Homo sapiens: one gene and its partner. The protein of the gene in region 1 interacts with the protein of each later gene in a biochemical or structural test. Each region holds a gene or a part of one and is shown on either strand. Other genes may lie near its edges.

The links. Proteins that work in one complex are often made in the same cells at the same time.
Region 2: the proteins of PRSS21 (region 1) and SERPINB5 form a complex in vitro, tested with the Homo sapiens proteins (one study listed by IntAct).

The regions. Positions count from the first base shown.
Region 1 is NC_000016.10:2,812,383-2,820,246, forward strand, and holds the start of PRSS21 (testisin isoform 1 preproprotein), read left to right. Parts: upstream 1-4,854; 5' UTR 4,855-4,886; coding exon 4,887-4,950; intron 4,951-5,047; coding exon 5,048-5,074; intron 5,075-5,418; coding exon 5,419-5,584; intron 5,585-6,294; coding exon 6,295-6,587; intron 6,588-7,864. UniProt on the Homo sapiens protein: Could regulate proteolytic events associated with testicular germ cell maturation.
Region 2 is NC_000018.10:63,472,496-63,479,958, forward strand, and holds the start of SERPINB5 (serpin B5), read left to right. Parts: upstream 1-4,462; 5' UTR 4,463-4,550; intron 4,551-7,463. UniProt on the Homo sapiens protein: Tumor suppressor. It blocks the growth, invasion, and metastatic properties of mammary tumors.

The DNA of each region.
Region 1 (7,864 bases):
CTCAGTTAGCCCCCTTGCCTGGGCTTAGTGCCTGTGAGGACAGGGGACGCTAGTGGTGAGGGCTATAGGTGTCCAAGGTGCTGGTGGGGCTCCTGGGATCCCCTGCTTACCTCCTTGCCTCATTCCCAGCTGATCCTGGTTGAGGACTGGGGTGCAGGCCCAGTGTTTCCTTCTGTTCTTCATGCGGCCATCCTGAGTTTCTCTGCTCACCAGGTTTCTGTTACTCCTCTAAAGCACTCTGGTGCTCTTCCTCAGTTATTTTCATTAAAAGTTAATTGTTGGCCAGGCGCGGTGGCTCACACCTGTAATCCCAGCACTTTGGGAGGCCAAGGCGGGCAGATCATGAGGTCAAGAGATCGAGACCATCCTGGCCAACCTGGTGAAACTGTCTCTACTAAAAATACAAAAAAAAAAAAAAAAAAAAAAAAGGGGGCATGGTGGTAGGTGCCTGTAATCCCAGCTACTTGGGAGGCTGAGGCAGGAGAATTGCTTGAACCCGGGAGGCGGAGGTTGCAGTGAGTTGAGATCACGCCATTGCACTCCAGCCTGGGCAAAAAGAGCAAAACTCTGTCTCAAAAACAAAAACAAAAACAAAAACAAATATTGTTTATTCATTGTTCTGGCTGTCTTAGTGAGGGGAAGGAGGACAAGAGAACTAGGGGGGCCATGGATGGGTGGCCCGCACCTGTAATTCCAGCACTTTGAGAGACCAGGGCAGAAGGATCGCTGGAGGCCAGGAGTTCAAGACCAGCCTGGATAACATTTTGCTCTACAAAAAATTTAAAATAAAAATGGGCCGGGCGCGGTGGCTCATGCCTGTAATCCCAGCACTTTGGGAGGCCGAGGTGGGCGGATCACAAGGTCAGGAGTTCGAGACCAGCCTGGCCAACATAGTGAAACCCCGTCTCTACTAAAAATACAAAAATTAGCTGGACGTGGTGGCACACGCCTATAGTCCTAGCTACTCGGGAGGCTGAGGCAGGAGAATCACTTGAACTCGGGAGGCAGAGGCTGCAGCGAGCCGAGATCGCCCCACTGCACATTAGCCCGGGCGACAGTGAGACTTAGTCTCAAAAAAAAAAAAAATAAAATAAAATAAAAGTAAAAATAAAAACGTAGCTGGGTGTGGTGGCCCGCACCTGTGGTCCCAGCTACTTGGGAGGATGAGGTAAGAGGATTACATTGAGCCTGGGATGCTGAGGCTGCAGAGAGCCAAGATCTCACCACTGCCCTCCAGCCTGGCCAATAGAGGGAGACCCTGTCTCAAAAAATAAAATAAAATAAAATAAAGAAAAAAAGAAAAAGGAAGGAAATTGTGACACATACAGCGATATGGATGAGCCATGAAGACACTGTGCTCAGTGAAATAAGCCAGTCACAAAAAACGAACACCGTGTGATTTCACACATATGAAGTACTTAGAGCAGCCAAAAGCGTAGGGACAGAAAGCAAAACAGAAGTTGCCAGAGACTGACAGGGCGGGAGCAGAGCCTCACTTTAGTTTTGGCACCTGGCTCTGGTTGTGACGCCTGCACCGTCTCCCTGGAGGGGCTGGTCAGAGCTGGGCTCCCACTGACTGATGTGCCAAGATGAGGCCCCCACTGTACCTCTGCTCCCACCCTTCTGCACCACCCACCCAGCTCCCATCCCTCTGCACCACCCACCCAGCTCCCACCCCTCTGCACCACCCGTCCAGCATTCCTCTGACTTTCAGGGATAGCAGGGGCCAGGCACAGGGAGTGGGCAGCGGAGTCCCTCTCAGGAGGAGCCTCCTTCAGGGAGGTGGAGGTGGAAGAGGCCAAGCCCTTGGCCAGCACAGCTCTCAGAGGCAGGAGCTTGGAGGTGCCACAAAGCGGGCTGTGTTCTCGCGCTAGCCCAGCCTAAGGGCACCTTTCCATGTTTTGTTTTGTTTTGTTTTTTGTTTTTTTTTTTTTTTTAAACACGGACTCTCGCCCTCTCACCCAGGCTGGAGTGCAATGGTGCGATCTCGGCTCACCGCAACCTCTGCCTCCCAGGTTCAAATGATTCTCCTGCCTCAGCCTCCAGAGTAGCTGAGATTACAGGTGCCCACCACCATGCCCAGCTATTTTTTGTACTTTTAGTAGAGACAGGATTTCACCATGTTGGCCAGGCTGGTCTCGAACTCCTGAACTTGTGATCCATCCGCCTCGGCTCCCCAAAGTGCTGGGATTACAGGCTTGAGCCATGGCACCCGACCTGTCTTTCCATGTTTTGCTGGCAGTTCAGGGGCCTTCTTTCTAACTCCAGGCTGACAGGGTTTGGCGCCCAGAAGGAGAGTCACTTGGGCCAGGACTCCAGAAGCACCAGCTGAGGTTGAGGGGACTTGGTGGAAGGGATAGTTAGCAGCCTGGCCAGAGGGGCGCCAGGACTCACCCAAATGCACACTGGAGGGGATGTTCAGATGGCACGAGAACGGGGATCACACATGGTCGTTCACACACGTGCACTTGAAGATGCATGCACACACATACACCCAGACACACACACCCGCCCAGCCTCTCCTGCACGCAGGGGGCATGCACACACGAGGACGCTCCTCACCTGCATGCCTGACCTGGGGAAGAAGCCCACCTGGTGGGAGGCACCCTCCTCCCACCCTCCATCTGCCATGGCCCAAGTGCTGGCCCCGAGCCCGTGCCCAGGGAGACTCAACACAGGCCCTTTGTCCCTTGGGATCAGGGCTCCCAAGAGAGGGATTTACTGAGCATTTATTTCCTGCCCCGGGCACGCCCCAGTCCTCATTCTGCCAGGAGAAGGGAACAATGAGGCCTTCTCCTGCCCGCAGAGGTGGCTCCGGGCCGGCTGGCCCTTATGTGTCAGGAGTCGGGTTAGGACCACAAGTCCCTGTCCTCCCTGCCCTCCAGGTGTGGGGCTTGGGAAGACCCCTCTGTGACTCTGCAGCCTGAGGCACAGCAGACAAGAGAGTCTCCATCTGCAGCCCATGCAGCAGCCAGGGCCTCCCTGCAGCCCCCGGGCCAGGCTTGGCCTCTGCGGGAAGCCCCCAGCCTCACTGGAGGCAAGAACCTGAGTCCCTGGCTCAGATCTCCGGGTAGGACTGGCCTGACTGAGACCCTGGGCAAAACCAGGAGCTGACACCTCCTAGGGGCCTCAGCGGATCCCTGGGACTCAGGAACCAGAGGGAACGTCCTGCTGGCTGGGAGAGGGGCAGGATCAGAAGCCCAGGGACCTTTGCCCCAACCCAGCAGGCCAAGGCCAGGCTGTGCATGTGACTTGTCCTTGAGCAGCTGCTGCTGGGGAAGGAGGCCCTGAGGGAAGGCACCGCAGCCTTGTGCTCCTGAAACCCGAAGCTCCCACACACCCGCTGCGCCCTCATTGAGTTCCCGTTGGTACCATGCTCTGTGCTAAGCATTTTATCTGTACTTTCCCCAAAGAAACTTAATACTTTTATTGGAAAACCAGAACGCCTAACCACACATTTTGCCTAATCTTTCATGTAATTAACCTTCCACTAGTGCAAGTGTTGAAAGTAGAATACGCTATTCCCAAGTTTCAAGTTGAGGGAGGCGGGATTCCCAGGTTCTGGTTGTACATTCCCATTTTCACTGATCTGTTCAGTGGTCAATGGATTCTTGGGTTGCTTTCATGTCAGCTACTGTGAATAATCCTGCTATGAACATGGGTATACAAATATCTCTTGAAGGCTGGGTGGGGTGGCTCACACCTTCACCCTGGCACTTTGGGAGGCCGCAGAGGGCAGATCACCTGAGGTCAGAAGTTCAAGACCAGCCTGGCCAACATGGCGAAACCCCATCTCTACTAAAAATACAAAAATTAGCTAAGCATGGTGGCAGGTGCCTCTAATCCCAGCTACTCTGGAGGCTGAGACAGGAGAATCACTTGAACCCAGGAGGCAGATGTTGCAGTGAGCCAAGATCGCACCACTGCACTCCAGCCTGAGCGATGGAGCAAGACTCCATCTCAAAAACAAACAAAACTAAATCCCCCCAAAAAACCAAAAACAAATATCTCTTGAAGACCTTCCTTTCAGTTCTTTTGGGTGTATGCTCAGAAGTGGAATTGCAGCTGGGCGCGGTGGCTCATGCCTGTAATCCCAGCACTTTGAGAGGCCGAGGTGGGCGGATTACCTGAGGTCAGGAGTTGGAGACCAGCCTGGTTAACATGGCGAAACCCCGTCTGTACTAAAAATACAAAAATGAGCCAGGTGTGCTGGCGCGCGCCTGTAACCCCAGCTACTTGGGAGGCTGAGGCAGGAGAATCGCTTGAACCCAGGAGGTGGAGGTTGCAGTGAGCTGGGATCACGCCAATGCACTCCAGCCTGGGCGACAAGAGCGAAACTCCATCTCAAAAAAAAAAAAAATTGTTCCAGAGAAGTGAAGAGAGCCCAGCGGGAGCCCGCAGTGGGGACAGCCTGGGCAGAGACTTGGGGAGATCCCCATTCTGGGTGGAACGGGCCGAGGACCACTGTTTTCCCAAGAAGGTCCCATGAAGGAGCAGCCATGCCTCTAGGCCCCACCCGGCCTTCAGGGGGTCCCCAGGCTTTAAGGGGACTCCTGGCTCAGGGCCAGGCCCTTGGTGCTGGAGGAGGTTGTAGGTGGAGGACGGGGTCACCAAGAGGGCAGCCGGGACCCCTGGGCTGCAGACAAGAAAGGGACTGTGGGGTCCACCGGGTCTGGGCCACATCAAGAAGTGTGGTTGAAGACCCGCCCCTAGGGGCTGAAAGCCAGGGCGCTGCCAGGCATGAGAGGCCCCAAACAGCCCTTGGGCCCAGGAGGGTGAAGCTGGGAGTAGAGGGCAGAGCTCCCACCCCGCCCCGCCCCCAGGGGGCGCCCCGGGCCCGGCGCGAGAGGAGGCAGAGGGGGCGTCAGGCCGCGGGAGAGGAGGCCATGGGCGCGCGCGGGGCGCTGCTGCTGGCGCTGCTGCTGGCTCGGGCTGGACTCAGGAAGCCGGGTGAGCTCGGGGCGCTGCTGGCGGGATGGGGAGGCGGGGGAGCGGTGGGGAGGACGGGAGGTGGAGGCCGCGGGGAGTCACTTCTTGTCTCCCGCAGAGTCGCAGGAGGCGGCGCCGTTATCAGGTAGGGCGCCCAGGACGCGCGATTCCTGCCAGGGCCGTTGGGCCGAGGTGGACGGGGGGCGGTGAGGGGGTAGAGGGGGGCCTTTACTGCTCTCTCGCCCCCGCCCCCGGGATCGAGAACTCTGTTGGCGTGGAAAGTAACTAACGGACGCTGGAGGGGGATGGGCGGGCCCTGCAGAGCACGTGGGAGGATCTCCAGTGTCACCTACTTCCTGCTGCACACACGCGAGGGGACCCTGGGTGGGCAAAAACGTGCTTTCCCGGACGGGGTTGAAGGGGAGAAAGGGAGAGGTCGGGCTTGGGGGGCTGCCTCCCGCGGCTCAGCAGTTCCTCTGACCATCCGAGGACCATGCGGCCGACGGGTCATCACGTCGCGCATCGTGGGTGGAGAGGACGCCGAACTCGGGCGTTGGCCGTGGCAGGGGAGCCTGCGCCTGTGGGATTCCCACGTATGCGGAGTGAGCCTGCTCAGCCACCGCTGGGCACTCACGGCGGCGCACTGCTTTGAAACGTGAGTGGGGGTGCGAACGGAGGGGTGCGGGGACGGGCAGGAACAGGGCTGGAGGGAGTGCCACCGAACTTTACCTCTGGTCTGATGCCAGACTTGGGCGTGAAAGTTGTGCGTGGATGCGGCCTGGTGTTCTCCTGAGCCCCAGGCTGTGCTGCAGCCGGTTACACCCACTCCAGTTCCCTTTGGGTCTCCTGGAGGGAACCCTGTTCAGGTTATTCCAGAATGTTCTTCCAGAACATTTCCACACACTTTTGGGTATTCTCTCCCTTTTTCTTTCAACCCAAAGTTCACCACTGACCATCCCACCCTCATCCCCCCTCCTGGTGGACGGTGCGGTACAGTGTGGGGCACTGAGCCAAGGCCAGCACCCCCGGGCCGCTGTGTGGACTCCATCCTGCCAATCCCACATTGGCGTGGTGCATCTCCCCATTCCTCCTTGGGCTGCATGGGGGTGCCCCTGGAGGCCTTGGCTCAATGCAAGGCTCCTTGGGACAGCTCTGGGAGGTGACAAGACCCCACCCTTCTGCTGCAGGAGCAGGTCCTAGGACTTTGGTTGTGGTCTGTCTGGGCTCCTTCATTTCTGCAGGGGACCCTGGGTGTTAGCAAGTAGCAGCAACACCACAGTTTCCCCTCCTGCACTGGACCCCAGTTGTGCTCAGGTAGCCAGCCCTCCATCCAGGGCCCCTGACTGCTCTCTTCTCTTCTGCCAGCTATAGTGACCTTAGTGATCCCTCCGGGTGGATGGTCCAGTTTGGCCAGCTGACTTCCATGCCATCCTTCTGGAGCCTGCAGGCCTACTACACCCGTTACTTCGTATCGAATATCTATCTGAGCCCTCGCTACCTGGGGAATTCACCCTATGACATTGCCTTGGTGAAGCTGTCTGCACCTGTCACCTACACTAAACACATCCAGCCCATCTGTCTCCAGGCCTCCACATTTGAGTTTGAGAACCGGACAGACTGCTGGGTGACTGGCTGGGGGTACATCAAAGAGGATGAGGGTGAGGCTGGGGACAGGCGGGTCAGGGAGGAACTGTCTTTGTTCACCTGTTCCCCTGCATAGGCACAATAGCCCCCTGCTTGGTCTGGGGGTGCAGGCTATGCCCCTCTTGCTTGCAGTCTCTCCTCACCTGCCAGGGCAGGGACCAAACACCCAGTTCTCTCCCTTCCAGGGGCTGTGGGGGCCAGAAGGAGAGTGTGAGAGGGAGGCCAGTTTGGCGCAGGCCTGTGGGTGGTGCGGTGGTGGAGGGGTTCTGGAGGGCTTGGCGACATAAACCTCATACTTGGATTTATTCCTGCATCTTTCCACCTCCCCCAGTGCTCACCAATGCCCCAGGCATCAGGCTCCTGGGCTGCCTCTCCATGCCTCCCACACCCACCCTAGCTCTGGCCGATTCTCCTGCAGCACTGAGCCCATTCCTCTCCCCAGAAACTTCCAAGCCATGCTCAACCGCAGCTCCCACGGAAACCCCTCTGGGGGTTCCTCTGGTGGGCCTGCCCTGGCACCTGCGTGTCCCCCAACACACATGCCCTGAAAGAAGTGGGCCCAGCATCCGGAGGAGCCCCGGCAGCCCCAGACTGGGCGTGTTCCCTGTATCAGGAATCCCTTCCCTCTGCTCCCCTGTCTGGCCCGTCCCTGCATCATCCCACAACAGTAGTAACAATAACAAACGTGGTTCCTTGAGCACACGCTGTGTGCCTGGCACTGTTCTAGACATGGGGGCCCAGCAGTGAGCCAGGCGCGGCCTCTCCTCCTGCTGGAGCTCACCTAGGAATGAAGTTGGTAACGTTCTTATACCCATCTTACAGATGAGAAAACTGAGAGGGTTATGGAAATTGCCAAGAACTAGTAAATGGAGAAGTCAGGGCCCCTTGCCTTAGAGAGGGTAAGGGATGTCCCCAAGTCACACCCCGGCAGTTGGGAGTGGGGAACTCAGCACTGGAGCCGCCTCCCTCTGGAGGAGGGATCCTTTGCCTTCCCTGAGAAGGACCCTTGCTGCAAACACGAGTGGATATGAGCCAGGGGCACGGCCAGGCTGCCTCTGCCACCCTCTCTCCCCAGCCCAGGGTAGACAGGTCACACCAACCCCAGGCTGTGCCTCAATTCACAGTGCCGGGGAGGCAGGGGACAGGCACTTCTGGAGCCCCCTGCCTGGTGTGCACCTTTGCTGTGCCCTGCGCGGGCTGGGAGGCCTTGGGCAAAGGTGTTCATCTTACAGTGCCTCAGTTTCCTCCCCTGTGAAATAGGGGAATGATGGTGCCACATCAGAGGCTAGTT
Region 2 (7,463 bases), on another chromosome or scaffold:
TAGGAAAAGAGAGAGATTGAGTGAGAGCGAGAGCGAGACAGAGAGAGAGAGAGAGAGAGAAAGCGAGAGGCACATGCTAGAACAAAGCTCCTTTCATTTGTTCCTGGGAGTGGCTGGGTGTGTCAAATCATCCCTCAGCCTCGATGCTGAGTAATCAAGTATAATATTTGCAAAGCTTCAACCTATAGGTAAGAAAAAGCACCAACAAAACAGTCTCCTAGGTTATTAAATATTTAGTCCAATGATTACTTGTGTTGAACTAGAGGAAGTTATTGCTTCATACAATTGTATAATGAATGAATGAATAATTCATTCTTTGAGCTATGTATCTCCCCTCCAAAAAATCTACTCTTTTAAATATATAGTCAATAAAATGGTTTTTGTGGCAAATAAAGAGAGGGGAAAACATTATGGATTATTTTTGAAATTATAGAGCAAATGCTTTTTCCTACAAACAGGTGTATTCTTTGTCACTAAATTTTTTTAAATAAATCATTTATTTGGTTGGGTGCGGTGGCTTACGCCTGTAATCCCAGCACTTTGGGAGTCTGAGGCAGGTGGGTCACAAGGTCAGGAGATCAAGATCATCCTGGCTAACAAGGTGAAACCCCGTCTCTACTAAAAAATAAAATAAAAAAAAAATTAGCTGGGCATGGTGGCGGGCGCCTGTAGTCCCAGCTACTTGGGAGGCTGAGGCAGGAGAATGGCATGAACCCAGGAGGTGGAGCTTGCAGTGAGCCGAGATCGTGCCACTGCACTCCAGCCTGGGCGACAGAGCGAGACTCCGTCTCAAAAAAAAAAAAAAAAAAAAAAAAAAAAAAAAAAAAAAAAGAATCATTTATTTTACAAATGTAAAGTGTTTGGGATGAATCAGATGTACTGGTCTTCATATACAAAGAGAACTGGAGGAAAGGTAGCTGGTATTTAAGGAAATGTCAAACTGACTTCAAATTTTGGGTTGAATTCATCCTTAGTTGAATTCCTGTCGGGTAGGGTTATTTCCCACTCATTCATTCTCTACCCACTATGTGCTAAGTACCCACTATGTGCCAGATACTATTCTAAGTTCTTGGACTACATCAGTGAAAAAAACAGACCAAAAAAATCTGCTTAGATTTCAGCTGAAGGAGGCCATCAACAGTAAACATAATAAGTGAATTGTATAGTATATCATATAGAAAACTATAAAATCTGGCCTTATATCTGCTTCTTATAGGTTCAAAGTTCATCAAGAAGAAGGGAGATCAAAAATACTCTGGAGTTGACTATTCATGGGCCCACATAAAAAGCTTTTCATGAGGCAAGAGACTGAAGATTATAACAGGATAATAACACCATATTGTTATTTTTATGTTGTTGCTCTCTGAGTTATTAGTATGAGTAGAACCTTTTTTCTTATAAGTCTGATGCTTCTAAGTCCACTTGTTAACATAATTGACATGACAACTTTGTTCTTTCCAGGCATTTCCTTCAGGATGTATGTTTTTTTTTTTTTTTTTTTTTTTTTTTTACAGTATAACAATTAGTGTAGGTATCTGACTTATAGAAATGCAAAGCTAAACTGTAGTCGGCTTGAGATCCATAGTTAGGTCTTATTCTGGGTCTTGCCCAGGGTCTGACACACTCAAAAAATGCTTATTCAGTCAATCACAGACTCCAATCAAAATGTCCAGTTAAAACAGGGAAGCAGAGTAGAAACCTATTGAATGCAGAAGACTTTATTGAGGCCACTCTTTCCTAAAATTAATCAGCAGGCATGTTCTCCAGAAACTAGTTTGAAATTCTGTAATTTAAAAAATGTGAACTGCTTGTATAACTCCATCCTCTCCCACTTTTCTGTTTTCTAGTGTCTTTTTAGGTAGAATTCTAAAGAACTTAAAATTTTGGCTGCCGTGGAAAAGAATATTACTGGGAAATGGGTCTTCTCAGTCAAATAGAATCACAGTTTTAATACTCTTTCCACTGAATGGGAACCACTTTTTTTTTTCCTGCAATTTTGCCTAAATCAACAGTGTGTTTTGTCAATGATGTTACACCTGAGACTTGTGAGTCCTTGCCTTACTTGGGTTCAATGAGAGGGTGAGAACATTCACGTACAGGGTCTGACCTCCAGAGATACTTCAACAAGTGAAAGCTTTTGACAGGAAATGTTCTGTTTAATCTTTTGTTAACATATCTGTCCAATATACCTTGTATCATCCCAGCTCTGGACCTCCGTTCTCAGGCTTAAATGGTCTCCTGATGTCCAATGATGCTGCCTCCATGATCCTTCCCCAGTCATAGCCAGACTGAAAAGGTCACACCCATCTCTGAACTACTTTTGTCATTTGCACCTCTCTTAAGTCCCTTATTACATGCCTCCAGATACTTTCTTTTGTTTCTTGTCTTCCTACTGTACCCTTTGGGGAGAGGGAACATGTCTTATAGCCCCAGTCGAATGGTGCCTCTAATTTTCACCCAGTTAGAATCACCCAAAGGCATTTCACTTTGCTAGAACTTCCTTGGGTATTGTTGAATTCCTGTCATTGGAAATGTTTCTGCCCCGGTTGAGCAAGCACTGAACAGGAGTGTTTTAGAGGGAATTAAAACTTCAAAAAGGAGAATAGAGAGGCTCTACCATTTAAATGCAAGTCGCTTGAAATCTGTAGACCACAGTAGCAAGCACGAAGCAGGTATTCAATAAATGTGGTGAATTCAATGTCAATAACATGCTCCAGTCTTTTGTCCACTATTCCCCGAGCCTACCTAACCAATGGGCAAAGTGGTACTAATTGCCATCATTAGGAAGCACATGCTATGTGTCAGAAAGTATGTAAGAATTGTCTCTTCATCCATCTCTGTCTATATCTCATTTTATCGATCTTATTGACAAATGAGAACTATATATAGATCTCATTTTACAGATGAGGAATCTGAAGATAAAGGGATTAAGCAATTTGCTCAGGATTTCTCAAGCAATGAGTGGTTAGACTTAGTTTGCAAATTTATGACTCTGCTCCCAAATTCTCATTTTCCCTCCTACAGCTGGATAATAGAATTTTTAAGAAGCATCCTTCCACACCTCCTCACCTATGACCTTCCCTCCACTTGCTCCACTGATGCCTAAAATTCTGTTTTTGGAGTTCACTTAGTTTATGACTTTGATTCTGGTTAACATTAAAATACCCAGGACATGGGGGAGGGGAAGCTGTTATCAATCTTAGTTTAGTCAGTTAATATAGCGAGTTGCTCTTATTCATTACTCAACAAGCACTTATTGACTGCATACTGTACATCAGGTCTGTACCAAGCTTTGGTGTTATAAAAATGAATGAAGTTTGGCACTTACCTTTAACATTGTTGTAGTCACATATAGGAGAATGTAAGAGATTATTATGAAACAATGTAGTAAATGTACAATAGGGAATTCTAGATAAGCACAGCAGAGAAGCAACCAGCTCCGTTTCAGGTCCTTTCCTGAGACTGATTCGGCTGGAAGGGAGTAGGTCCCGCCAAATGAAGAAGCTGTGGGAAGACAGGAGGACAAGAACAGGCTCCACGAAGAGATTTCAGAGCAGAGCTGCGTACTCCTTTTTCTTTTTGTTTCTTTTGCTCTGTCACCCAGGCTGAAGTACAGTGGTTAGCTCACGGCTCACTGCAGCTTTGACCTCCCAGGCTCAAGTGATCCTCTCGTCTCAGCTTTCCAAGTAACTGGGACCACAGGCATGCATCACCACACTAGGCTATTGTTTTACATTTTTTGTAGAGATGGGGTCTCACCATGTTGCCCAGGTTGGTCTCAAACTCCTGGGCTCAAGCAATCCGCTCACGTCAACCTCCCCAAATGCTGGGATTACAGGCGTGAGCCACCGCGCCAGGCCTGAGTAATCCTAATCACAGGATTTTAAAAAGAAACTTCCTGCGCCACCCATTAAACAATATCTCCTACCAATTTGGTAGTAAATATTTTGCTAATAGTACCTAATTTTTAGGTAGGCACTGTGTTTATACATATATCCATTCCTTCTTTTTTGATTGTCTTTCTGTTTAATGGGCAGCTACCTCTCTTGGCATCTAGCAGAATGAGCTGCTGCAGTTTACACAAAAAGAATGGAGATCAGAGTACTTTTTGTGCCACCAACGTGTCTGAGAAATTTGTAGTGTTACTATCATCACACATTACTTTTATTTCATCGAATATTTCACCTTCCGGTCCTGCGTGGGCCGAGAGGATTGCCGTACGCATGTCTGTACGTATGCATGTAACTCACAGCCCCTTCCTGCCCGAACATGTTGGAGGCCTTTTGGAAGCTGTGCAGACAACAGTAACTTCAGCCTGAATCATTTCTTTCAATTGTGGACAAGCTGCCAAGAGGCTTGAGTAGGAGAGGAGTGCCGCCGAGGCGGGGCGGGGCGGGGCGTGGAGCTGGGCTGGCAGTGGGCGTGGCGGTGCTGCCCAGGTGAGCCACCGCTGCTTCTGCCCAGACACGGTCGCCTCCACATCCAGGTCTTTGTGCTCCTCGCTTGCCTGTTCCTTTTCCACGCATTTTCCAGGATAACTGTGACTCCAGGTAAGCAAGGTGGGGTAGCAGGGCTGGTGACTTCCTTTTTTCAGGGAAATTCATAAATATCGTTATTTGAGCTGATTTGAGATGGTGAACAAAATGGACTTAGGTCCATTTTGGGGCTGTTTTCAAAGACGGGCTGTTGGGTTGAGTACTGTCGCCTCTCATCCCCCATGTTGGCAGTATTTCCAGCTCCCAACCCTTTGAGCACCAGGAACACTGCAGAGGGAGTAAAATCACTTAACCATACAAGGTAAGAATATGAAGAAGTCACGTGGCTCGGAGGTTTTGGTGGTAGAGGGGTGCAACCGTGATTCACGGAGGAGAAAATACTTCTGAGGACATTTTCAGGCCTACTTTGGAACTCAGAATGAATTTTGCAATGCTAGTTTCAGAAAGGGTGTGGTACCCGCAAACTGGGGAAAGTTGAGAAGTATTGGTGGGTCTGGCTGGCTCTTCTCCCTGGCTGACGTTGTAAGGCTGAGATTTAGGCATATGGACTGCCCTTCTTTTTGGCATTTTTAAGCATCAGATCGCTGTTCATCTACTTGCAACTGCATTCTTCTAAGCGGAAATTATTCTCCCTTCAGTTTTCTGGGTTTCAGCATAACTTTAAACAAGTTACACATTTCAGATGCATATTCTTGGACTTATAAATTGTAATAGCTGCTTGTAGTTTCTTACTCATATGCTGTACACTTTTTCTTATGGCTTCATTTAAGCATATCATACTAAAAACCAACATGCCAGGCTATTCCAGAGACTTGTAACCAGATCCTCAGAGCTGGGGGCTCTTAGACATATTTCAGCCCAGCCCCCTCATTCTGTAGATGAGGAGCAGAACTCACAGAGGTGATCTGGTGTCCAAAGGCACACAGCTTGTAAGTAGCACCGCTGAGATCAAATCAGGCCTTCACACTTGCAGCTCGGGATGTTTCCACAACACCGTGGGTTCTGTTACCATCTTTTTCATCCCCTACATCTCCCGGGAGGTTTTCGATAATGGGTTCCAAACCTCAGTCCCTGTCAGTTAGTGTAAGTGTTCGATGAGTTCCTTCATGGGTGGAGATGAAGCCTGTCTGAGGAAAGGAGTCTCCAAAGGAAATGAGTCAGCAGGTTTATATCTTTGCTTCCTAACGCCTTGAATTGTGCCACTTCAATCCCTCTGGGTTGTGGATTGACTTTGGGGCTATGCAGTCTCAGCGATTTGGGCCATTCTGGTGTGGCTGAGTCTGGCTGTAAGTTTACTGCTTGGCAACAGTGGGCTGGGTCAGTGGTCAAGATCAGGCTTCTAAAGAGACAGGAGCAGCTATGATGCTTCAGAGCAAAGCAGACGCCCCCCTGCCATGGGAAATTAAAGCAATTACTAATAGCTGTATTGTACTTTCTTGCCCACAAAGCACTTTTCATATACATTGATTCACTTAATCACTTCGTTTAGTCCTCATAGTCTTTCACATTGCAGAAACTTCAAAATATCCTATTTTCTTAATCCTGCACATCCTTTGCTCCTCAAAGACTTAGAATGTGGACAACAGAGGTTGTGTTTTTTGGCATTCCATTACTGATATTATAATAGGCAAGGTTTCTCATGGCATTCCCTAAGGACTGGTTATACCAAATACTTGAGAGATGTTTTTCACCATGTCTTTCCATCTTTAAAATGAGGCAGGCCAGGCTAAATGATATCTACGATACTCTGACACAGTAAAAACGTAGTTTTTTTTTTTTTTTTCTTGAGATGGAGTCTTGCTTTGTCACCCAGGATGGAGTGCAGTGGCACGATCTTGGCTCACCGCAACCTCACCCTCCCAGGTTCAAGTGATTTTTCTGTCTCAGCCTCCCAAGTAGCTGGGATGACAGGCACGTGCCACCACGCCCGGCTAATTTCTATATTTTTGGTAGACACAGGGTTTCACCATGTTGGCCAGGCTGGTCTCGAACTCCTGACCTCAAGTGATCTGCCCGCCTTGGCCTCCCAAAGTGCTGGGATTACAGGTGTGAGCCACTGTACCCGGCCAAAAGTTAAGGTTTTAAGGGATGAAAAAACTATACTCATAGCTCTGTTTAAATATGCACGCCCGTGATGTGTGGGTGAAGAGTGTGGTTGATGGTCTATAAGTAAAATGAACATATATTGTTCAAATCAGGATATGTTTGAGAGTAAACGGGGCACTGTTATCAATGTCAAGACAACAGACATAAACCAGGATTGTCCCAGGCAAAGTGGGATGTATATATCCTACCCACAGGACTTTTTTCTCACCTAAATGGTCTAAAGACAAAAAATGTGAGGACCATTGGCTCAGATGCATAAAAAACTTAGGAAATCTTCATACAAAGACCAGTGACAAGCTATAAGTCTAGAGAAGTGAGCACGGCCCTACCCCCAGCCCAGTACATGCGTCTCCATTCACTGGGGCCTCTCTGAATTGAGTCAGTTCTCCCTGTCCCACGTTTTTGCAAGGCTAACTCCTACTTATCCTGTAGGACTCACCTTTAATGTGACTTACTCAGTTGTCACTGTCTCTGAGGAGGTGTCACTGAGGTTTCTAGTATGGGGGGTCTGTCACTCCTGGGGATCCCATAGTGACTTGGGTGCTCATCAAAACACTTAAAACAGTCATCATACCACTAACTGACAGCTCCTTGGAGGCAGGGGCTATGTCGTTTTCACCTTTTCTTAATGCTTACCCTGACACAAATTAGGTACTCAGTTAATACTTACTAGATGAAAGCAACATCATACCAAGAGTTTACAACATAAGTGGCAGAAAGGGAACAAGGGCTTCTTCAAGTAGGAAAATCATAGGGAAGAAGTTTTGTGTCGATTGAACAAACCATGCAGGATATGTTGATATCTTCAAGGGGAGACTTCAGGACATGCAGGATTTTTGGAACTCGAGAGACTTCTGAGAG